2 separate regions of the Homo sapiens genome follow, and region 2 is linked to region 1. The links come from fine-mapping of genetic effects on gene expression. A gene starts in region 1. The other region holds a variant in brackets. All regions are shown on one strand. Distances are between the middles of the regions. Region 1 holds the start of RAD21 (RAD21 cohesin complex component). Region 2 has its middle 21 kb from the start of MIR3610.

Region 1 (12,011 bases):
CACTTCGGTCCTTGATAAACTCACATTTCCATCTGGCCCAGAGACTACCCCCTATTATCCCTGGGCCCACTCCTGGCCCCTGGTGATTTTCCACTGCTGATACATACCTGCGTGAGCAGACCCTTAGCCCAGCCATAATAGGGATGCTTGCAGCCGCTTTCTGGAGTCCTGCCTCAAACCCCAAACCTCAGCTCAAACGTTAAAACTCAAACCTCAGCTTCTGCTTGAAGTTGAGGATGTGACTGTGAATGAAACCTATGTTTTCTAAGGCTTACAAAACTCTTTCTCTCGGTTTCTCTCTCTCTTTCTTTTTCTCTCTCTCTCACACACATGCACACACTATTATCACTAATTTAATTAATATCTAGTGAATTAGGAATTGTTTCAAATAATGACATTTTGTCCTTAATTCCCCTACATCTCATATAATGTTTATGTCTGATTATGACATTTCTTCCTTGAATTTTGTCCTTAAAATGCATTCCCTTTTTGACCAAAACCCCTTGTAAGGATACTGTTGGCACTAGAAGGAAAGCCAGAATCTACAGTTTTTAAAGTCACTTTCAGTCCATTTTTCTTTGCTTAGCCCAAAACCTTAAAAAGGCTATTCACTCTTTCTGAACTTTTCTTTGATCATCATATTTTATACTTTGATTTTTATTTAAATAAAAATTTTTAAAAACCTGGTGCACCACATGTTTAATACCCATCCTCCCGAACATTGAAATATCTATTTTCTTGTCTTATTCTTCTCTTCACCTAATTCCTCCTACTTACTATAATAATAATAATACTTTTTTTTTTTGAGACTCGAGTCTCCCTCTGTCGCCAGGCTGGAGTGCATGACCTCAGCTCACTGCAACCTCTGCCTCCCAGGTTCAAGCAATTCTCCTGCCTCAGCCTCCCTAGTAGCTGGGACTACAGGCATGTGCCACGACTCCCAGCTAATTTTTGTATTTTTAGTAGAGACGGGGTTTCACCATGTTGGCCAGGATGGTCTCGCTCTCTTGACCTTGTGATCCACCCACCTCGGCCTCCCAAAGTGCTGGGATTCTATAATTATTTTAATGTTATAGAGAATCCTGTTTTAAAAGTTTGCCAGTTCAGAGGAGCAAGTCTACAACAGTATATGTAAATCTTAAACAAATCTGCTACTGTAAGTTTTATCATCTTTTTCTATAACAGTATATTTTCTCTCTTTTTTTGCCATAACAGTTTTTATCTCACAAAAAAAACTCTCAGTTGTGTGTGTGGGGGGGGTGTCATCATAAAATAACGTGATATAGACAGAACGCAGCTGTTTTTATAGATATACTCAAGACAGTGGCAACACCCAGTTTCTCAGTGATTTCCCCAAATCATACAAGTCATCAACTGACTAATCAGAAAAGGAAAGCATACCATTTGCAACTGAAGAAAGACAAAATCTGTAACTGAAATCTGTCCTCTCATGGTTTTAGTCAAACAAATTCACAATTACTAATTTTGACAAATGCACATTCATCAGATAAGTATTTCCAGGGAGAAGAGATACTGCAGCTAACTCCTGCAATAAGAAATTTAACTTGACATTTTAATACAAGGAGGTGGATGGGTATGTTGATAAGAGGAGACTCCAAGCCAGAATAAAACATACAACTTGTTCAAAGAATCAAATCCAGCCATTTAGGGGATTAGGACTGTATGTGAAGAAACTATATTAAAATCTACAAATGGGAAGGCGGGCTCAGAGTTGGGAGCTCTGAGTAAGAATAAATAGTTCAAGAGAAAAGAAATGTAGTACTTTGGGAGGTAACTTGGGGTAGGAGAACAGCATGTAAGAGAAAGATGGAGAGAGACAGAGAAGAGAGAGAGAAGACAGAGAGAGAGAGGAGAGAGAAGACAGAGAGAGAGAGAGAATAATTTTCAAATATAAACATAAAACAGGATATAGTCAGAATGGGGCAGAGTATCCCGGTGTTTACTGATGTTCTTATAAATTGAATATCTGATAAATATTTCCCATACCTTGCTTGATATCTTATTATTCAGAAAGCAGATAAAACTAGAGTAATACCTGCCATTTATTAATTACTCAGTTCCAAGCACTATACTAAGCACTTTGTGTATGTGATCCTATTGAATTATTTCAAACATCATGACAAGTATTACCCTCATTTTATTAATAAAGAAATCAAAGCTCAGACATTAATTGTACATGTTAAAACAGCTGGGAGGTAGAAGAGAAGAATTTGAACCCAAAGCCCATGTTCATAACCATCCCCCAAAAGTAGAAAAATAAATGTCTTAAGAAAAAGGTAAGCCTGTTGATTTAAATATTAGAATCAGACTTGCTGCTAGAAATGAGGAAAAGAGAATTGTTTTTATTCAAATACAGATGAAAAATATATGGTTCCATGAACAAAAACTCTAAAAGCTAATGTAATATAAGAGAGACAAGAAGTGGCAATGCATATTCACCTGGCCATAGTTTGAAGCTGGGATTGATTTAAACTGAAATTTAATATGAACGACAACGTCTTCACCATGCAACATGGTTGTGTGATTCTTAACCTGACAGGAGACTTTTCCCACATGATTAGTTTTGAGGTCATTTAGCAGCTGATACACCGAAATTATTTTGAAGTGAAGAATTAAATTGTTCACTGGCAGAAATCTAATTTCTGTTGCAAGGAGTTTAATTGTTAATGAGCTTGTATTTTTTTTTTTTTTGAGATGATGCAACAACTGCCACTGTTGAGTTTGCTTAAAGCCACACCAGCAGGAAGGATTTAAGTGCTTTGAGCATCTAATCTATATTGGTCGAGGGAAAGCATGCTTAAAATGTTAAAAGTGCTTGTACTCCTTCACTCCCCAGCTTGGGATTTTAACAACTATCCTTAATGCCAATTTCTTAAAGTCTCCATTAAAAACAAACCAAAAGAACATAAAATATTTGGCTAACTACAACAGAAATTCACTTGATAAAGCTTTGAGCTGTGGCCAGTATGGCCACTTAGCTAATGGACTCCAGCCAGTGAGACGAACCTTGCCCCAACCCAAAAACAGTGGACCCACAGTGAGTGGAGCACAAGACTGTCCACTTTCTTATCCATCTCCTATATCAGCATAAGAAGGGTAAAAGTGAGGTGTTCTGTGTGTCATTAAAATCCTGGAAGTGTCCAGAAGTAGTGGTTGCTGACAATGAGGAGTATATGGACTTAAATGTCTGCTTTTCCTGTGTGTTTTACTTTAAAATGAAAATACATTCAGAAACTGGACACAAAATTTCTTTTTAAAATACGTTTTTATTATTATGGATTCATAATAGTTGTACACAATTATAAGGTACGTCTGACATTTCAATACAAGCATACAATGTGTAACAAACCATGGTAATTGGGGTATCCATCACCTCAAGTATTTATCATTTCTTTGTGTTAGAAACATTCCAATTCCACTCTTTTAGTTATTTTGAAATATATAGTAAGTTATTAACTATAGTTTCCCTATTGTGCTACCAAACACTAGACTTTATTCCTTCTTTCTAATTGTATTTTTGTACCAAATCTGAGGGGGCAGATTTTGTACTCATCTGCCCCCTCCCCACTACCTTTCCCAGGCTCTGGTAACCATCATTCTACCTTCTATCTCAATGAGTTCTTTTTTTTTTTTTTAAGCTCCCACATATTAGTGTGAACATTCACACTAATGTCTTTCTGTGCCTGGTTTATTTCACTTAATGTCTTCCAGTTCTATCCATGTTGCAGCAAATGAAAGGACTTTTTTTCTTTTTTATGGCTGAAAAATATTATCTTGTGTATGTGTACCACATTTTCTTTACCCATCTATCCACTGATGGACACTTACGTTGATACCATATCTTGACAATTGTGAATCTTGCTGCAATAAATGTGAGAGGGCAGATACCACTCTGATGTACTGATTTCCTTTTTTTTTGGGGGGGGGTATTTACTCAGGAGTGGGATTGCTGGCTCATATGGTGGCTCTATATTTAGGTTTTTAAGGAATCTCTATACTGTTCTTCACAGTGCTGTACTAACATACATTCCTACCAACAGTGTACGAGTGTTTCTCTTTCTCCACATCTTTATCAGCATTCATTATTGCCTGTATTTTGGATAAAAGCCATTTCAACTGGGATGAGATTATACCTCATCCTAGTTTTGATATGCATTTCTCTGATGATTAGTGATGTTAAGCATTTTTTCATATCCCTGTTGGCCATTTGTATGTCTTTTTTGAGAAATAACCATTCAGGTCTTTTGCTCAATTTTAATTGGATTATTTTCCTATTATATTGTTTGAGCTCCTTATATATTATGGCTATTAATTCTGTGATAGATGAGTAGTTTGCAAGTATTTTCCCCCACTTGATGGGTTGTCTCTTCACTTTGTTGTTTGCTTTGCAGAAGGTTCTTAGCTTGGCATGATCCCATTTGTCCATTTTTGCTTTGCTTGCCTATGCTTTTAAGGTCTTACTAAGAAATATTTGGTTCTGGAGCATTTCCCTAACGTTTTCTTCTAGTAGTTTCAATAGTTTCAAATCTTAGATTCCAGTCTTCAAGCCATTTTGTTTTGATTTTTTTAATATGGCAAAAGATAGTGATCTGTTTCATTCTTCTACATATAGTTATCTAGTTTTTCCAGAACAATTTTTGGAAGAGACCATCCTTTTCCCAACGTATGTTCTTGGCAGCTTTGTCAGAAATTAGTTGACTGTATATGTATTGATTTATTTATAGGTCCTCTATTCTGTTCCGTTAGTCTATGTGTCTGTTTTTATGCCAGCACCATGCTGTTTTGTTTACTATCACTTTGTAGTATAATTTGAAGTCAGGTAATGTGATGCCTCCAGCTTTATTCTTTTGCTCAGGATTGCTTTGGCTATTCTTGGTCTTATTGTGGTTCCATATAAATTTTAGGATTTTTTTCCTCTTTCTGTGAAGAATGTCATTGATATTTTGATAGGGATTACATTGAATCTGTAGATTGCTCTGGGTAGTATGGAAATTTTAACAATATTGATTCTTCCAATCCATGAACATGGAATATATTTCCATTTTTGTGTGTCCTCTTCAATTTCTTTCATCACTGGAAAGATCTCTACAATAAAAACAAAAGTAAATTTCTTCGTGGTACAAGTAAGTCTTTTAAGATAAGAAATTTTAAGATTCCTCCCAAGCAATACTGAAAATTTCCAAAAGGCAGTTATTATCTCTGTTATATTAATCATTATATCCAGAGCCCAACGTGTAGCAAACAGAAGACCCTCTATAATATAGGTTGACTGAATAAATGAACCTCTATATTTTATGGAATTAGTTTGAGGTTTTTATGTTACTTTCATCCCTATAGAGCCATAAAATGAATTTTTTGGTGGGGGCACACAAAATTGCACCACGACAGCTTTTTTCTTTAAAACAAGCACAAGAATAAAGCTAAACGCAAATATTCACCGCACTGGAAAGCACTGCGCGTGCGCTATCTTACGCTATTGGCTAACACCGCAACTCTCAAAGACCCTCGCAAGAGAATCACCTTTGCGCTTGCTCAGTTGTGGACTCCACAAACAGAGGGCGGGTTCCAAAGAAAAGGAAATAGTCATTGCGCCTGCGCCGCTCCTTCTGGGGGGAGGGGGGGGCTTGGGCTGGCTGCGCAGGCGCACAGGTACCATTTTGACCGTAAACATCCTGCCGATTTGAACCGAGGATTTGGGCGGCAGGAAGAGCCGCGGCGTAACGGCAGCCATCTTGTTTGTTTGAGTGAATCGGAAAGGAGGCGCCGGCTGTGGCGGCGGCGGGAGCTGCTCGGAAGCTACACCTCGCAAGGGCTCCCCCCTTTCCCCACCCCCTCCCCCGACCCTTTTCCCCTCCCCGGGCCACCCAGCCCGCCCAACTCCCAGCGGAGAGCAAGGTAAGAGACTCGGCCGACCCCTTCTTTTCCTCCAGCTCCCTCCCCCCACCCTTTCCCCGCCGCTCTGCCGTCGGGGAGCCGGACTCCTGGGGGCGGGAGGGCGAGGGAGAAGGCAGCCCTCGCCGCGCCCACGCGTGCTGCCACCCTCCCGGCGCCCAAGCGGCGGCGCCACCCGCCCAGCCCCCTTCGCCCCGGGCCCGCCCTCGGCCCGGACCCATGCAGCTTGGGCCCGCATCATCGCTTGTTCGGTAACAAATGATTCTGATCCATTCTGAGATCTACAAAGGCTGTTACCCTGCAGGTCCATCTCACGTCCCCCAGGAGGCCGGGGAAACCCTGGGCTGCGGAGGGAGGGGAGGAGGTTTGAACGAGCCCGCTCTGGGGACCGGGCCGCCTACTCCGCGGGTAAAAATGGCTGTCTGGGAGGAGGCGGTGGCGGGCCCGGCGCCCGCGGTGCCAGCCCCGGGAGCAGCAACCTTCCGCCGAACTCGGGTGCGGGGCTCAAGAAAGTGCGGAGCTGGTGGGGCTGGGCGGGGTGGGGCGGGGGGTCGGCGGGTGCCCCTCGGCCAGTGACTGCTGCTGCCCTCCCGTTTTAAAAAGATAATTTTTACGTTGGGAATGCTGAATATTTCACAGACGCGTGGAAAAAGAGACGGAGGGAAGTTGCTTCTTTTTCCAAGGATATTTGCATAATTGGTTTTCCCCTGAACTTTTCTGATCATTCTTTAAAGTGATTAAGGATATCGGGTGTTGTAGAGACGCTCTGGGGGAGGTGTGTGTTTCTGATAAATGCTTGATGCCCTTTTCGTCGCTGAAAAAGGCTTTTTGCGAATGATCCGCTTTGATAGTGTGGGGTGACACTGTCGGGTTGTGCTGCCAGACTTAGCGGCCTTCTTCAAATTTGTAAGAGGGAAACCCTGGGGGATTTACTTGGTCACTCTGATTTGTTAGTGTCTTCAGCGTGAAAAAAAAAACAGCGTTTGTGCGAAGAGTTTCTGGGAAAGGCTTGTGTTTATCGGCTTCTTTTTGCAAGGGAAAGTTAATCTTTGTTGTCATTATACTGGTTAGAAGAGTAATTGGTTTTCAGGCAAAAATTTCTATTTTCTTAAATTGGGTGTAAATGCCAGCGGGCAGTGCGAGTCTATAGAATTTTGGAGACAGGCAGGAGAAGGTTTCTCAAATCGTGAAGTCATTAAATACCTTTGTTAATGTCGGAGGCAACTAATTATTTTTGGAAAGGCATTGATGAGGACATACGCCATATCTGATCTTCAAATAAGTTAACAGTTTGTATAGTTGAGGTGACAGCAGTGCATAACTAATAGACATAGTGCTTTTTTTTATACACAAGTCAGAATTACAAAAGAATTTCTGGTGAATTATTTTGTGAAACATACAAATTCTAAGAAACGCTTTTACAGTTTGGTACAGAATGGAAATTTTCTAATTCTTGAGAAATAAGGTTGTGTTTTTAGTTTAAATGTCAAACCAGAGTTGTTAGGCATGATTATACTGGCTGGTTAATGTTTTGCTGCAAGATTGTCTTCAGAGTTACTTTTCGCATCAGCAGTGGCACTATGTTAGGTGTGCCCTTGTATTTAATTTTCATAATCTTTTTTGATGAATATTATCCCAGTTTATAGTTGAGAAGTAACTTATTCACCGTTACAAAACAACTGAGCAAAGAGGGAGCTTAATTTGAACCTACGACTGTCTGATTGTAAAACTCTTGGTCAAAGGATGTTAGAACCAAAACAGAGGAGATTTCTAGTGTGCAGGGTTAGAAATATCTTCAGAGATCCTTCCCCCTACTCCCCTGAAGAGGTAGCTCCGTTCTGATCTGAGTTAGGTATTGACGTTTTCAAAGGTTAGGTAAACCACCAGATTTCAACCTTTCAGGTTTTCATAGTAGGGAAACTGAACTGCATAAAGGTTAGGCAGCTTAACTGCTAGTTAATGACAATAGCAGGATTATGTCTTTACTTCTGAGATAGTAGTTTTTACTTTGAATAGGTGGTGTACATTTATGTCCCGAGTTAAAATATGTGTGTGTGTGTGTGTGTGTGTGTGTATGTATATATATATATCAAACAGTACAAAAAGGTAGGCCTCACTTGCCCTGCATACCTACTTTCCAGAGGTAACCAGTATCACCAGTTTCATGTGTACGCCACAGGTATTTTAAGCTTATTCAAGAACTCGTAAATATATAGAGAAAGAGCATTCTTTTTTAAAACTCCAACTTTTTTGCACTTAACCTGGAGATTTTCCATGTTAGTACAAATGTTGTATTCTTGTTTAAAGTTGTACTGTACAATTGTCCCTTGATATTAAAGGGGAATTGGTTCCAGAACCAAAACCACGAATGCTCAAGTCGCTTATATGAAATAGTGTAGTATTTGCATATAACCTACTAACATCCCATATACTTCAAATCATCTCCATTTATGATATTACAATGTAAATGCTATGTTAATAGTTAATATAGTTGTTATAGTTTTTTATTAGTAGTATTTTTTATTATTGTGTTTTTTTGTCCCCCCCTCCAACAATTTTTGATCCTGGGTTGGTTTAGTCCATGGATGCAAGAAGCCATGGATAAGGAGGACCGACTATATTCCGTTGTTTGGGTTTATTAATTTTTCATATCACTTATTGATGGCCAAGTAGGTTATTTCGAATGTTCTGTTCTGCTCTGGCAAGGCAGCATAGTGTTGTAGTTAGAAGTGTGGATTCTGAAGTTCAAGTTCCACTTCCATTAAATACTAGTGACATTTACTTATCTTCATCTGTTTTCTCCATCTCTAAAATGGGCCAGTAATTTACTTCTGTAGGACAGTCATGAAGAGGTTGGATACATAAAACACGTAGTGCTTAGTAAGTTTTCTTAGGATTTTTTCGTGTTTGGTTTTTTGGTTTTGTCTTTAGTAATATGCATCTCCAAGTATATCTTTTGTATTGATTACTGAAAGTGCAAGTTCTGGCTAGAAAGTGTAAGTGAAATTTTTATAAAATGTTGTCATATTGTCCTTCAGAGAGGACAGTACCAATTTACACAACCGCAGTCCTGCCATGCTTTCTAATGAGTGAAATATTGGTAATGACTGATACTATCCTAGAAGCATGAGCCTCAGTTTGATTCTTTGAAACAGTCTTAAATTGCCATTTTTTGTATTCTTGAATATGTTCTAAAATAGCAATCTTTCTGCTGTTTCACATCAGACTTTAATTTTTTAGGGTCAATTGAAAAAAACTGCTTGCCGCTTTAGAAAAAAATGATTCTCAAATCATGAAATGCTAAGTTGTGCTCTGGTATCAAATGCAGATTTTCTGCACAGGGTTTTCATAAAGGATTTAGCAGAATATAGAATCTTCAAAATCTAAACAGATTAATCGACTTTTTTAAAGATTGGATGAAGTTTGGTATTATCAAGGAAAAAAAAATAGGCTTAAAAGGCAATTATAATTACACTTTCTCCTTATTCAGATATACACCAGGAGTCGATCCACCACTGCTCCTTTGGCTTCCTTTAGTTATTAGAGTGATTTCCTCTTGCTAATTGTTTCCCACATTAATTTTAGCATCACTCTGCCTTCCTTAGCCCCATCCTATGCCAAACAGGCTTCTGTTTAGGAATCTCTGCCTCTGCATAGCTGGGATATTTTAGGCACGGTGCTCTGACCAGCAGCTGAAGTGCTGGCCAGGAGCTACTGACACCTGTTGAAAAATGCCAGTAGTTTTAATTTTTAAAACGTCTAAAATTTTTTACATATGCCAATTATGAGATCACTTGGTGGATCTTACTTACTTATTCATTAAGCACATATTTAGTAATTGTCATGCCACAGATAGTATTCTAGAAGCTTAATATTAAGGAGTTTTTTGTTTAGGATACAGTTGCTTGCTTCCATAGTGGAACTTGGGGCTTGTCCTGTACAACAGCGATTATATTTCTCAGAACATGCTGCTATGTTGGATTTCTGTAAAGTTCTCTAGATTTTATTTATAACATAGTAGGAGCAGCTTAAGTTTTGTGATAACATTTTAAGGCTTGAAGTAGGCACTGATTTGAAACATAGGAGGCTCTCTTCCGGTATGGGAAGCATGTTTTAATCTATAAAATAACAAATGGCAAATAAAGCACCTTTGAGGTGTTATTTAATGCTCGTACCTTAAGAATATTTTGTCTGAGTTCTTAGTATAGAATATAGTATTTCTTCATTCTTTAATTTCTTTTTTTTAAAAAATAAACACGGGGTCTTGCTATATTGACCAGGGTGGTCTGGAACTCCTGCCCTCAAGCATTCCTCTTACCTTGGCCTCCCAAAGGGCTGGGATGGCAGGCGTGAGCCACCACCGCTAGCCAATTTCTTCCTTCCTTAACTCCAAATTTGGGAGGAAGAGTTTACAACATTAGACAGTTGACAAAGCCTGGTTTTTTTTCTTTTGAGGAAAAGTTTTTTTAGTATGAATTAATAATCCTTTGGGAACATTAGATTCAGAGAATGAGAATTTCAAGACTCTTTACTCTTAAGTGATGGAAATGGAGATAAAGCAAACCTGACTGCAGTAGTCTTGCACCACAGCCCCCCACCCTCCAAAATATTTTTGACATGTAAGAAATCTGTTGCTTGTGATACGCGTAACTAAAATATATTTTCTCTACATCATGGGAAAGAATTGGCACATTTTTAATTGAAAGTACAGTAAGCAAAATTCTTTAAGATTTACAGACTGTGAAAAAATGAAAAATAATTACTCTGTATCTTTTAGAGAAAAGCTAATTCAAGAGATTTTAGTCCCACCTGCAGTGTAAGAGATCCAGCTTCTCTGTGTCTTTCAGCATTTGATGTTGCCACTATTTTTTAATTTAGCTCTTATATTAAGTGTGTGGTGATAATGTTTTTGGCCTTAATTTGTATTTCTCAAATGCCTAGGATAATTGAACATCTCATGTTCTTATTTGTCATCAGTAAACCTCTTCTGTGAAATTTCTCTTCTTTGGCTCACTTTTTTTTTTCTTTTTATACAGAGTCTTGCTGTGTCACCCAGGCTAGAATGCAGTGTCGCGATCTCAGCTCGCTGCAACCTCCACAGCCTGGGTTCAAGCAATCCTCCTGCCTCAGCCACCTGAGTAGCTGGGATTACGGGCACATGCCACCACACGTAGCAGTTTCTGTGTTTTTTAGTAGAGACAGGGTTTTGCCAAATTGTCCTGACTGGTCTTGAACTCCTGGCCTCAAGTGATCTGCCTGTCTTGGCCTGCCAAAGTGCTGGGTTTACAGGCATGAGCCAGCCTGCCTGGCCTCTTTTGCTTACTTTCTAATTGGAGTTTTTTTTTCTTCTTACCCCTGAAGTTTTAAGAATTCTTTACATATTCTATATCTGAGTTCTAGTCAGATGTGTGGTTTACAAATATTTTTTCCCCAGTCTATAGCTTGTCTTTGCATTTCTTTCGTAGAGCAAAAGTTTAATTTGATAAAGGCGAGTTTATTGAGCAAGAACTTTTCCTTCATGGGTTGTGTTTTTGATGTGTCAAAATTTTTACCAAGCTTTAGGTACTGAAGGTTCCCCTCTGCCATTTTTTAAAAGTTTTGTCTATTTTGAATTTTTATATAATGTGTGAGATTTAGGTGGAGGGTTTTTTCCTTGCCTTTTTTGTTTTGTGGGGGGTGTGTGCGTGCGTGCGTGCATGTTTTCTGGTCTTCAGATCGTATTTAATCACTCCAGCACCATTTGTTGAAAAATGTATCATTTCTCCATTAGATAGCTTTTGCATCTTTGTAAAAAAAAAAAAAAATTAGTTGAACTTAGTTGTGCGGGCTATTTCTGGGTTCTCAGTTCTGTTACATTGACTGTGTTTCCTCTGCTAATACCAATCTTGAGTATTATAGCTATATAGTAAGTCTTGAAATCAAATAGACTAATTTTTCTCACTATTTTTCAAAATAGTTTTAGCTTTTTTAGTTTATTTGCTTTTCTATATAAATTTGATAATCTTGCCTATAAATATAAAAAAACTCATTTTGATAATTGTATTAAAGATTCTTTAAAAACTAAACATATACTTAACAATACTTGTCAGCAGTCACAT
Region 2 (12,011 bases), 21 kb before region 1:
TAGAGACATTTTTGGTTATTACATCAGGGCAGGGCAGGGGTGGAGGGCTGAGGGGAGATGTTACTGGCATCTAGCACGTAAATACCAGGATTACTGCTAATAAACATCCTAGGCGGAAGATAGCATCCCACAACAGAAAATTGTCCACCCCTAATGACAATGCAAAGGTTAAGAAATCCTTTTTTAAGACTGCTCTCTTAGACACGTCTTTGGCATAGTTTTCTCCTCAACCCACCACCATGTATTCCTTCTAATCCCTAGGCTAGTATATGCTTATAATTACAAAGTAATAATTTTTGCAATTTTGTGGGGTTTTTATTGAGATAAAATATACATATAAAATTTACCATTCTTACCATTTTTAAGTGTACAATTAAGTGATAATGGCTCCATTTATATTCTTTTTTTCCCTTCAAACCCTTCTCCCTCCCACTCTTCCTGGCCTTTGGTAACCAACAATCTTCTATCTTCATGAGATCCACTCTTTTAGTTCTCACATATGAGTGAGAACATGTGATATTTGTCCTTCTGTGCTTGGCTTATTTCACTTAACATAATAGCCTCTAGTTCCAACCATGTTGCAAATGGCAGGATTTCATTGTTTGTTATGGCTGAATAATTATGTGTATATTCTACATTTTCTTTATTCATTCATCCATCCATTGGCACTTAGGTTGATTCCATATTTTGGCTATTGTGAATAGTGCTGCAATTAATGTGGGAATGCAGATATCTCTTTGATATATTGATCTCCTTTTTCTTGTATATATACTCAGTATTAGAATTGCTGGTAGTTCTGTTTTTAGTTTTTGCGGAAGCTCCATACTGTTGTCTATATTGGCTGTACTAGTTTACATTCCCACCAAGAGTGTACAAGGGTTCCCCTTTCTCCACATCTTTACCAGCATTTGTTATTGCCTTTTTGATACAAACCATTTTAACTGGAATGAGATGATATTTCATTGTGATTTTGATTTGCATTTCTCTGATGATTAGTGATGATGTATTAATTCATTTTCACACTGCTGATAAAGACACACCCGAAACTGGAAACAAAAAGAGGTTTAATTAGACTTACAGTTCCACATGACTGGGGAGGCCTCAGAATCATGGCAGGAGGCAAAAGACACTTCTTACATGGTGGCAGCAAGAGAAAAATGAGGAAGAAAGAAAAGCAGAAACCCCTGATAAATCCATCAGATCTCGTGAGACTTATTGACTATCATGAGAATAGCATGGGAAAGACCAGCCCCCATGATTCAATTACCTCCCCCTGGGTCCCTCCCATAATGCGTGGAACTTCTGGGAGATACAATTCAAGTTGAGATTTTGGTGGGGACACAGCCAAACCATATCATTCCACCCCTGGCCTCTCCAAATCTCATGTCCTCACATTTCAAAACCAATCATGCCTTCTCAACAGTCCCCCAAAGTCTTAATTCATTTCAGCATTAACCCAAAAGTCCACAGTCCAAAGTCTCATCTGAGACAAGACAAGTCTCTTTCGCCTATGAGCCTATAAAATCAAAAGCAAGCTAGTTACTTCCTAGATACAATGGGGGTACAGGTATTGGTAAATATAGCCATACCAAATGGGAGAAATTGGCCAAAACAAGGGGTTCCAGGGCCCATGCGGGGAAGTCAAATCCAGCAGGCAGTCAAATTTTAAAGGTGCAAAATGATCTCCTTTGACTAGGTCTCACATCCTAGTCAAGCTGATGCAAGAAGTGGGTTCCCGTGGTCTTGGGCAGCTCCACCCCTGTGGCTTTGCAGGGTACAGCCTCCCTTCTGGCTGCTTTCATGGGATGGCGTCGAGTGTCTGTGGCTTTTCCAGGTGCATGGTGCATGCTGTCAGTGGATCTACCATTCTGGGACCTGGAGGATGGTGGCCCTCTTCCCACAGCTCCACTAGTCAGTGCCCCAGTAGGGACTCTGTGTGAGGACCCCAACCCCACATTTCCCTTCCACACTGACCTAGCAGAGGTTCTCCATGAGGGCCCTGCCCCTGCAGCAAACTTTTGCCTGGGCATCCAGACATTTCCATACATCTTCTGAAATCTAGGCAGAGGTTCCCAAACCTCAATTCTTGACTTCTCTGCACCCACAGGCTCAACATCATGTGGAGGCTGCCAAGGCTTGGGACTTCCACCCTCTGAACCCACAGCCCAAGCTGTACATTGGCCTCTTTCAGCCATGACTAGAGCAGCGGAGACACAGGGCACCAAGTCTCTAGGCTGCACACAGCTTGGCAGCCCTGGGCCCAGCCCACAAAAACACTTCTTTCTCCTAGGCTTCTGGGCCTGTGATGGGAGAGGCTGCCATGAAGGTCTGTGACATGACCTGGAGACGTTTTCCCCATGGTCTTGGGGATTAGCATTAGGCTCCTTGCTACTTATGCAAATTTCTGTAGCTGGCTTGAATTTCTCTCCAGAAAATGGGTTTTTCTTTTCTATCACATTGTCAGGCTGGAAATTTTCCAAACTTCTATGCTCTGTTTCCCTTTCAAAACTGAATGCTTTTAACAGCGCCCAAGTCACATCTTGAATGCTTTGCTGCTTAGACATTTTTTCCGCCAGATACCCTAAATCATCTTTCTCAAGTTCAAAGTTCCACAAATCTTTAGGGCAGGGGCAAAACCCTGCCAGTCTCTTTGCTAAAACATAACAGGAGTCACCTTGGCTCCAGTTCCCAACAAGTTCCTCATCTCCATCTGAGACAACCTCAGCCTGGACCTTATTTTTCGTGTCACTATCAGCATTTTCATCAAAACCATTCAGCAAGTCTCTAGGAAGTTCCAAACTTTCCCACATTTTCCTGTCTTTTTCTGAGCCCTCCAAACTGTTCCAACCTCTGCTTGTTACCCAGTTCCTAAGTCGCTTCCACATTTTTGGGTATCTTTTCAGCAACGCCCCACTCTACTGGTACCAATTTACCATATTAGTTCATTTTCATGCTGCTGATAAAGACATACCCAAAACTGGAAACAAAAAGAGGTTTAATTGGACTTACAGTTCCACATGGCTGGGAGGCCTCAGAATCATGGCAGGAGGCAAAAGGCACTTTTTACATAGTGGCAGCAAGAGAAAAATGAAGAAGCAAAAGTAGAAACCCCTGATAAACCCATTAGTTCTCACAAGACTTATTCACTATCATGAGAATAGCATGGGAAAGACCAGCCCCCATGATTCAATTACCTCCCCCTGGGTATTTTGGGTCTCTCCCACAACACGTAGGACTTCTGGGAGATACAATTCAAGTTGAGATTTTGGTGGGGACACAGCCAAACCATATCAAATGCTGAATATTTTTTCATGTAACTGTTGGCCATTTGTATGTCTTCTTTTGAGAAATGTTAATACCAATCTTTTGCCCATTTTTAATTAATTTTTTTGCTATTAAATAGTTTGAGCTTCTTATATGTTCTGGTTATTAATACCTTCTCAGATGGATAGTGTGCAAATATTTTCTCCCATTCTGTAAGTTGTCTCTTCACTTTGTTGATTGTTTCCTCTGCTGTGCAGAAGCCTTGTAGCTTGATGTAATCCCATTTGTCTATTTTTGCTTTGGTTACTTGTGCTTTTGAGATCTTACAGAGTAAACCTTTGCCCAGGCCAGTGTCCTGGAGATTTTCCCCCAATGTTTCTTTCTAGTAGTTTCATGGTTTTAGGTCTTAGATTTAAGTGTTTAATCCATATTGACTGAATTTTTGCATATAGTGAGAGATAGAGGTCTAGTTTAATTCTTCTGCATATGGATATCCAGTTTTCTAGCACTACTTACTGAAAAGACTGTCCCTTCTCCATTTTATTTCTTGGTGCCTTTATCAAAGATGAGTTGGCTGTAAATGTGTGTATCTATATCTGGATTCTCTATTCTGTTCCGTTGTTGTATGTATCTATTTTTATGTGAGTACCATGATGTTTTTGTTACTATAAATTTATAGTAAGCTTTGAAATCAGGTAGTGTGATACCTTCAGTTTTGTTCTTTTTGCTCAGTATTACCTTGGCTATTGAGGGTCTTTTGTGGTTCCAGATACATTATAGAATTTTTTTTTCTGTCTCTGTGAAGAATGTCATTGGTATTTTGATATGGATTGCATTGAATCTGTGCATTGCTTTGGGTATTATTGTCAATTTAACAATATTAATTATTATATTAATTTCATTTCTTTTCAGAATTTTATAGTTTTCCTTGTATTGACCTTGCACTTCTTTGGTTAGATTGATTCCTAGGTATTTGATATTTTTGTAGCTATTGTAAATGCAATTACCTTCCTAATATCTTTTTCAGATTGTTTACTATTTGTATATATAAATGCTGCTGATTTTTATATGTTAATTTTGTATCCTGCAAATTTACTGATTTTTTTTTTTTTTTTTTTTTGCCTAGTCATTCCAGTCAAGACTTCCAGTGTTATGTTGAAAAAAAGTGGTGAAAGTGGGCATCCTTGTGTTTGTTCCATTCCTTAGAGGAAAGGCCTTCAATGTTTCTCCATTCAGTACAATGTTAGCCATGGGTTTGTCATATATGGCCTTTATTATTTTAAGGTGTGTTCCTTTTATACCCATTCTGATGAGGATTTTCATCATAAAGAATGCTGAATTTTATCACATGCTTTTTTGGCATCTATTGAAATAACCATACGGTTTTTGTTCTTGATTCTGTGAATGTGATGTGTCACACTTATTAGTTTGCATATGTTGAGCCATCCTTGCATCCCTAGAATAATCCCACTTGATCAAGATGAATGATCTTTTTGATTGTTGTTGAAATTGTTTTGCTAGTATTTTGTTCAGGATTTTGTGCATTTATGTTCATCAGTGATATTGGCCTGTAATTTTATTTTTTTCTTCTTGTGTACTTGTCTGGTTTTGGTTTCAGCATAATGCTGGCCTCATAGAATGAGTCTGGAAGTGTTCCTTCCTCTTCAGTTTTTTTGAAGAGTTTGAGTAGAATTGGTGTTAGTTTATTATCTTTAAATGTTTGGCAAAATTCAGCAGTGAAGCCATCAGGTCTTGAAATTTTTATTGATGAGAGGTTTTTTATTATGCCTTTGATCTCATTACTCAATACTGGTTTGTTGAGGTTTTCTATTTCTTCGTAGTTCAATATTCATCAATTGTACATGTCCAGATATTTGTCCATTTCTTCTGGGTTTTCCAATTTGTTGGTATATAGTTGTTCATAATACTGTCCACAGATTCTTTGTATTTCTGAAGTCTCATTTATTATGTCTCCTTTTTCATTACTGAATTTATTTATTTAGGTCTTCTTTTTTTCTCAGTCTAGCTAAAGGTTAGTCAATTTCCTTTTCAAAAAACTAACTTCTTGTTTCATCTATCTTCTGTAAATTTTGTCTCAATTTTATTTATTTTGGCTCTGATCTTCATTATTTATTTCCTTCTACTGATTTTGGGCTTGGTTTCTTCTTGCTTTTCCAGTTTCTTCAGGTGCACTGTTAGGTTGTGTATTTGAAGACTTCCTACTTTTTGATAAATGTATTTATCGCCATAAACTTCTCCCTTAGGACTGTTTTTGATGTATCCCACAGATTTTGATATGTTGTATTTCCATTTTTATTGGCTTTGAGAAATTTAAAAAATTTCCTTCTTAATTTCCTCATTGACCCATTGGTTTTTCAGGAGCATGTTGTTTAATTTTCATGTGTTTTTGTATTTTCTGAGGTCCCTCTTGCTACTGATTTCTAGTTTTATTTCATTATGGTCAGAAAAAAACACTTGATACAATTTACATATTTTTTAATTTGTTCAGACTTGCGTTGTGTCCTAACATATGGTCTATCCTGGAGGATGTGCCATGTGCTGATGAGAAGAATGTGTATTCTGTAGCAGTTGGGTGAAATGTTCTATAAATTTCAGTCAGGCCTATTTGATCTGGTATATAGTTTAACCATGGTGCTTCTTTGTTGATTTTCTGTCTGGATGATCTGTCCATTACTGAGAGTGAGATGTTAAATATCCTATTATTATTATACAGCAGTGTATCTCTTCCTTTAGATCTATTAATAT[C/T]TGCTTTATATACTTGGAAGCTCTGATGTTAGGTGCATAGATATTTATAATTTTTATATCCTCTTGCCAAATTGACTCCTTTATCATTATATAGTGAACTTCTTCGTGATTTTTTATAACCTTAGCTTTTTACTCTAGTTTATCTGTTATAAGTGTAGCTACTTTTGCTTTTTATTGGTTTCCAGTTGCATGGAATATTTTTTCCACCCCTTCACTTTCAGCTTATGTGTGCCTTTATAGGTGAAGTGAGTTTCTTGAAGGCAGCATATAGTTGGGTCTTGTTTCTTTATCAATTCAGTCACTTTATGACTTTTAATTGGAGAATTGAGACCATTTATAGTCAGTGTTATTGATAAGTAAGGACTTACTACTGCCATTTTATTGCCTATTTTCTGGTTGTTTTGAGACTACTGTCTTCCTTTCTCAGTCTTTTTTTTTTTCCATGTTTAAGTGATTTTCCCTGGTAGTATGTTTTAATTTCTTCATTTTTATTTTTGGTGAATCTATTATAGGTTTTTGCATGGTTACCATGAGGCTTACAAAAAAAAACCATAGATATCACAAGTTATTTTAAACAGATGACATTTACCTTAGATCACACAATAAAGACCAGAAATAAAGGCAAAAAACACACATACGAAAAAATCTACACTTTAACTCTATCACCCTCATATTTTGAGTTTTAGTTGTCTCAATTTACATTTTTTACATTCCATATCTTTTAATAAGTTGCTGTAGCTATTATTGTTTTTGACAGATTTGTCTTTTGGGCTTTATTATCAGAGTTGTGAGTAGATTGCACACCACCATTATAGGAATAGAGTATTCTTGGTTTGTCTACGTACTTAATTCTACCAGTGGGTTTTACACCTTGAAAAGTTTTCTTTTTGTGCATTATTTTTTTTTCTATTTCAGACTGAAGATCTCCCTTCAGCATTTCTTGTAAGACAGATCTGCTGGTGGTGAATTCTCTCAACTTTTGCTTGTCTGGGAAAGACTTTATCTCTCTTTCATAGTTGAAGAATAATTTGGCTGGGCACAATATTCTTGGATGGCAGATTTTCTTTTCTTTGAACACTTTGAAAATGTCATTCCATTCCCTCCTGGATACATCTATGCCTTTGTATTGAAGGATTAATTATTTTTTCAAATTTCCTCTGACAGGCTTGTTTTGTTTTTTTAGTGGATATATTTGCCTAGAAAATCTTTACCACTATGTTGCAGCCTTCTTTTTGGCCCTAGGTGTGTCTTAAGTCCAGGTTCACCTTGGCTTTGGTAAATGATCAGAGTGATGTCCGTTTTGAATGGGTGAGGTCCTAAAGGGACCTGGCACTGTTAGAAGGCTAGCTAGGAGTTTACACCCAAGGAAACTATGAAACGTACCTTCTATGGTGTGATGCTCCTGAACAACCATTCTGATTTGATGTCTTCTTTTGCCAAGTTGCAGAGCAGAGTTTCCAGGGCTGGGGGTGGTAGTTCCACTTCCCTCCTTTGTCTTCACCTGTCCTCTGTGAAGTTTCTCCCTTCAGGCAGCCACAGTGCTTCCCTTGGGTTAAGACAATAACAGGTCTCCTCCCAAGATATCCAAGATGGTAGAAAAGCTGGTTGGCCATCTCAATCTCACTCCTTCCCTTGTAGAAACCATGAGTTGGAGAAGATTTTCCAGGTGCTAGTTGCCAGGCAGAATGGGGGGATGGGGTGTCATGGATGTGAAAGTCTGATTCTCCCACCATCTGCTCAAAGTACTCTCATTTCTCTGTGTCCCCAGGATCTGTCTCATCCTCATATTTGATTCTGGGTTGTTGCTGTATATTTGTTTTTGGTTTTCTGGCAAGGAGGTGGGGTAGTAAGACCAGCTTGCTTCTATGCCACCATTTAAACTGAAAGTCTAAGATCACTTTGTCTCAGACAAATACTAATCTTCTTAAAATGGTGTATAATGTGTGAGAATGGAGTATTTTGTCAAAGGAAAACAAATGTAAATCTCTATCTCCTACAGAAATGAGTTTATTTTCTCACTTTTAGCCTTCCATTGAAAAAAAGCAGTGTGTCAAAGCCAGCCTACTTATTATTCCGCACCCTTAAAACATATTTCAGTGATGAATCTGACAAGCTATACTCAGATTTTTTTCAGCTATTATAACTGTGCTATTATAAAAATGAAGCCTGTAAGAATCTTTCAAAAGGTAGAAGTCAATCATGTAACTCATTAATTCTACATGAAAAAGTCACATCAAAGACAGACTTTTTTTTATGATTAAAAAAAGTCTTATAAAAAAAGGAAAAAAGGCCAGGCATGGTGACTCATGCCTGTAATCCCAGCACTTCAGGAGGCTAAAGCAGGTGGATTGCTTGAGCTCAAGAGTTCAAGACCACCCTGGGTAATATGACAAAACCCTGTCTCTATAAAAAAAAATACAAAAAATACTATCTGGGTGTGGTAACATGTGCCTGTAGTCCCAGCTATTTGGGAGGCTGAGGTGGGAGGGAGGTGGAGGTTGTAGTGAGCCATGATTATGCCACTGCACTCCAACCTGAGCAACAGAGTGAGACCCTGTCTCCAAAAGAGGAAAAAGAAAAACCAAACCAGATAATGACATTGTTAATAGCACGGATTATTATTTAAAATAACAGTAGCTTCAAATATAGTGATATTGGTAGCTCTGTCCTTTCATTTAAAGGAGCATATATTCATTTAAATTATATCAAAATCTTTGAATATTTTAGTTTAAAATACTTATACACTGTCTATATAGAAAACCAAGCAATAGTTACTTAGGAAATTTCTACTTTGAAATCAATGTGAATTTCTGACAGCAGGCTCATTCCCTCACTCACTCCACTCCTTCCATGCTGGCCTCTTTGCTTTTGCTTGCCTTCCAGGGAATCTCCTGTCTCAGAGCCTTTGCATTTTCTCCTCCCTCTCCTGGACACTTCTCCCCTAAAGACTCACATGGTTCGTCCTCTCACCTTCTTCAGATATTCACATAAATATCACCTTCTGAAGGAGGTCTTCTTTGACTCTGCTATGGTTTGGATACTTGACCTCTCTAAACCTCATGTTGAAATATAATCCCCAATGTTCAGGGTGGGGCCTAGTGGGAGGGGTTTGAGTCATGGAGGTGGATCCATCATGAATGGCTTGGTGCCATCCTTGAGGTAATGAGTGAGTTCTAGGTAATGAGTGAGTTCTCGCTCTATTAGTTCCTACAACAGCTGGTTGTTAAAAAGAGCCTGACACCTCCTTCTTTCTCTCTCACTTTTTTTCTCACCATGTGATCTCTGTACATGCCAGCTCCACTTCTCCTTCTGCCACAAGTGGAAGTAGTCTGAAACTCTCACCAAAAGTAAATGCTGACATCATGCTTCTTGTACAACCTGCAGAACCATGAGCCAAATAAACCTCTTTTTTAAATATATAAATTATCAAGCCTCGGGTATTCCTTTATAGCAACACGAACAGACTAAGGCCGATGCTGTCAATTTTCTGTAATCCCATTTCCTACACTACTTTTCGTCATTGCATTTATCCCTTTCTAATGTATTACGTTTATCTCTTTCTAATGTATTACATATTTTACTTCTTTACTACAATTCAGTAAATATGTATTGCATTAATCAGTAAATAAAAGGAAGGAAAGTAGGGATGCCAGTGACATACATTTTGCTTGAATGGATTTGTATGCACCATGTGACTCTGAGTCTATAATGCTGGTGGCAGCTTCTTACTCCAGTTCATAGCTAAGGTGGTCTGACGCTGGAATCAAGAGTTTGGGATAGTGTCTTCCTGACTCCCCAGCTTTCTGAAGGTTGCAGAGGTAGCCCTTTCTTTGGTGAGCTGGTTCTTGGTTGACATTCTGGAAGTCAATCCCAGAGACATAGCCTAAAACCAGCTCTTCCCCATGATTAACCTCTTTCTTTTCTGATTATCCTAATGTTTCCTGTCACCTACAACTGAGCCCCAACTAATAAAGTATTGTATCCCCATTTCACAACAAGAAAACAAAGTATCAGGAAAATAAAATGACAACAATAAGTCAAGCCCAAGTTTATATGATCCCACAAACAAAATGAACTGTAAGATATTACAAAAGATATGGATGAATAGCCAGACAGAGTACATTCATAGGGCAATGTATGTGGAAAGGAAAGTGAAATTTCCATGCCCTCTGTGGGCATATCACCCTCCAGACACCTCCACGTGTTCAGCAATCCAGAAGCCTTTCTGAACACTATTCTTTTGGGTTTTTATGGAGGCTTCATTACATAGGCATGATTGATTACATTATTAGCCATTGGTGATCAACTTAACCTTCAGCCTTTCTCTGCTGCTTGCAGGGATTGGGGAGTAGGGTTGGGGAGGCTGAAACTCCCAACTCTCTAATCATGCCTTGGTCTTTCCAGTGACCCCCATCCTGAAACTACCTAGGTGCTCTTAGCCACTGTTATCTCAGTAACATACAAAGAAAAAAAACTCTTATCACTCAGGAGATTCCAAGGATTTTAGGAGCTGTACTCCAGGAAATGGAATGAAGATCAAATATGTATTTCACAACATCACAGAACAATCCTAGCTCCCTCTGCCAATGGCTCAGAATATTTAAAACCTACTCAGTCCAAGAAATTCCTCTTCTAATCCTAAGAAACATAGATTTATGGAACTAATGATAAATGTGTTCTTTCCAGTCCAGCTCTGTTTCTGGAATTCTTTGCATTTCCTACCAATGCCTGTTAAGAGTGTTCCCAAAAACAATAAAATCTTGCCGCTCAATAGTTGAGTGTTTGGCATAATGTATAATGTATGATATTTTAGGAATTTTCAAGAAACATTGCAGTGGAAAACTCAAATTCAGTCACAAAAGTGACTCTTTGCTTATAAAACAGTCATTGTGGGTTTACAATCTGTATTAGAATCAAATCTTCTTTCATCTGCAACTGGCTTGTTTTCCTTTTCTGGTTAGTCAGTTGATGACGTGTGATTTGGGACAATCAGGGGCTGAGAATCTGGCGGTTACTTCTAGTCTTTTGCACAATCTAAGGCAACTAAACCTCTTTCCATGTTTAGTTATTTTTTGTGTATTTGTGGAGTTTGCTTTTGAAATGGAAATTTTTTTGAGAAAACCATCTCAGAAAAAACATGGACAGGGAAAATTCTATCCATTATTTACATAACATCAAACAGACAAGCCAAGGACAGGCTGCTTCTCTGAAGAACTAAATCTGGAAACAGGAGATTTCACAATGTAGAAAGCAAATGAAGTTGGAGAGAGCAGAGGATGAATAGGCCCGATATGTTTTCTTTCAGAAATATTTGAAAGTTAGCAATGCAAAGTTATTAAACAATACATGGGTTAATTTTTTGTACTTTTATCACACTGTTTCATTGTGAGTGCAATCTCAGCTCACTATAGCCTCTGCCTCCCAGGCTCAAGCAATCCTTCCACCTCAGCCTCCTGAGTAGCTGGGACCACAGGCATGCACCACCACAACCGGCTATTTGTTTGTTCATTTTGTATTTTTGGTGGAGATGGGGTTTTGCCACATTGCCCAGGCTGGTCTCGATCTCCTGAGCTTAAGTGATCCACCAGCCTCAGCCTCAGCCTTTCAAAGTGCTGGGATTACAGGCATGAGCCACTGCACTTGACCCTGTGTTTTTTCTATTTATTTAAAGAGTTATTTCATAAGTTTTTAAAAAGTGGTCCAAAAAAGTACAGAAGGAATGAATAGTCCCTTCAAAGTTATAAATTAGATAATGAGAAATTGTATAAAAGTTAATAAAAGAGAGATTCTCTCTTTGCAATTGCAACATTAAATCTTCCACTGCTCAAATGGAAATCAGATCCTAACAACAAAGAGACTGCCCTTTAAGAACTGCAGTTTCCTATTATTTAATCATTTATTAGATTTAGCAGAGAGGGAGACTAGAGAAAGAGAATAAAATCTTTGTTACCAATATATATTATGTTTTTAAGGATTTTATA

The links. PIP is the estimated chance that this variant, and not a neighbour inherited with it, causes the effect.
Region 2: its variant is fine-mapped to the expression of RAD21 in whole blood (TOPMed, PIP 0.94).

The regions. Positions count from the first base shown.
Region 1 is chr8:116,868,516-116,880,526 of GRCh38, reverse strand. It overlaps RAD21 (RAD21 cohesin complex component), which reads left to right and starts at 5,751. Exons shown (of 14, transcript NM_006265.3): 1 at 5,751-5,916. It overlaps RAD21-AS1 (RAD21 antisense RNA 1), which reads right to left and starts at 6,103. Exons shown (of 2, transcript NR_033886.1): 1 at 5,542-6,103; 2 at 3,659-5,106. MIR3610 (microRNA 3610) reads left to right here and starts at 5,727; the gene lies at 5,727-5,799. RefSeq lists an enhancer at 5,754-5,803 and silencers at 5,914-6,233, 6,394-6,443.
Region 2 is chr8:116,889,323-116,901,333 of GRCh38, reverse strand. No RefSeq gene overlaps it. Among named protein-coding and RNA genes, the nearest start is that of MIR3610, 21 kb to the right of the region's middle. The variant C/T (reference allele first, on the strand shown) is at 6,031.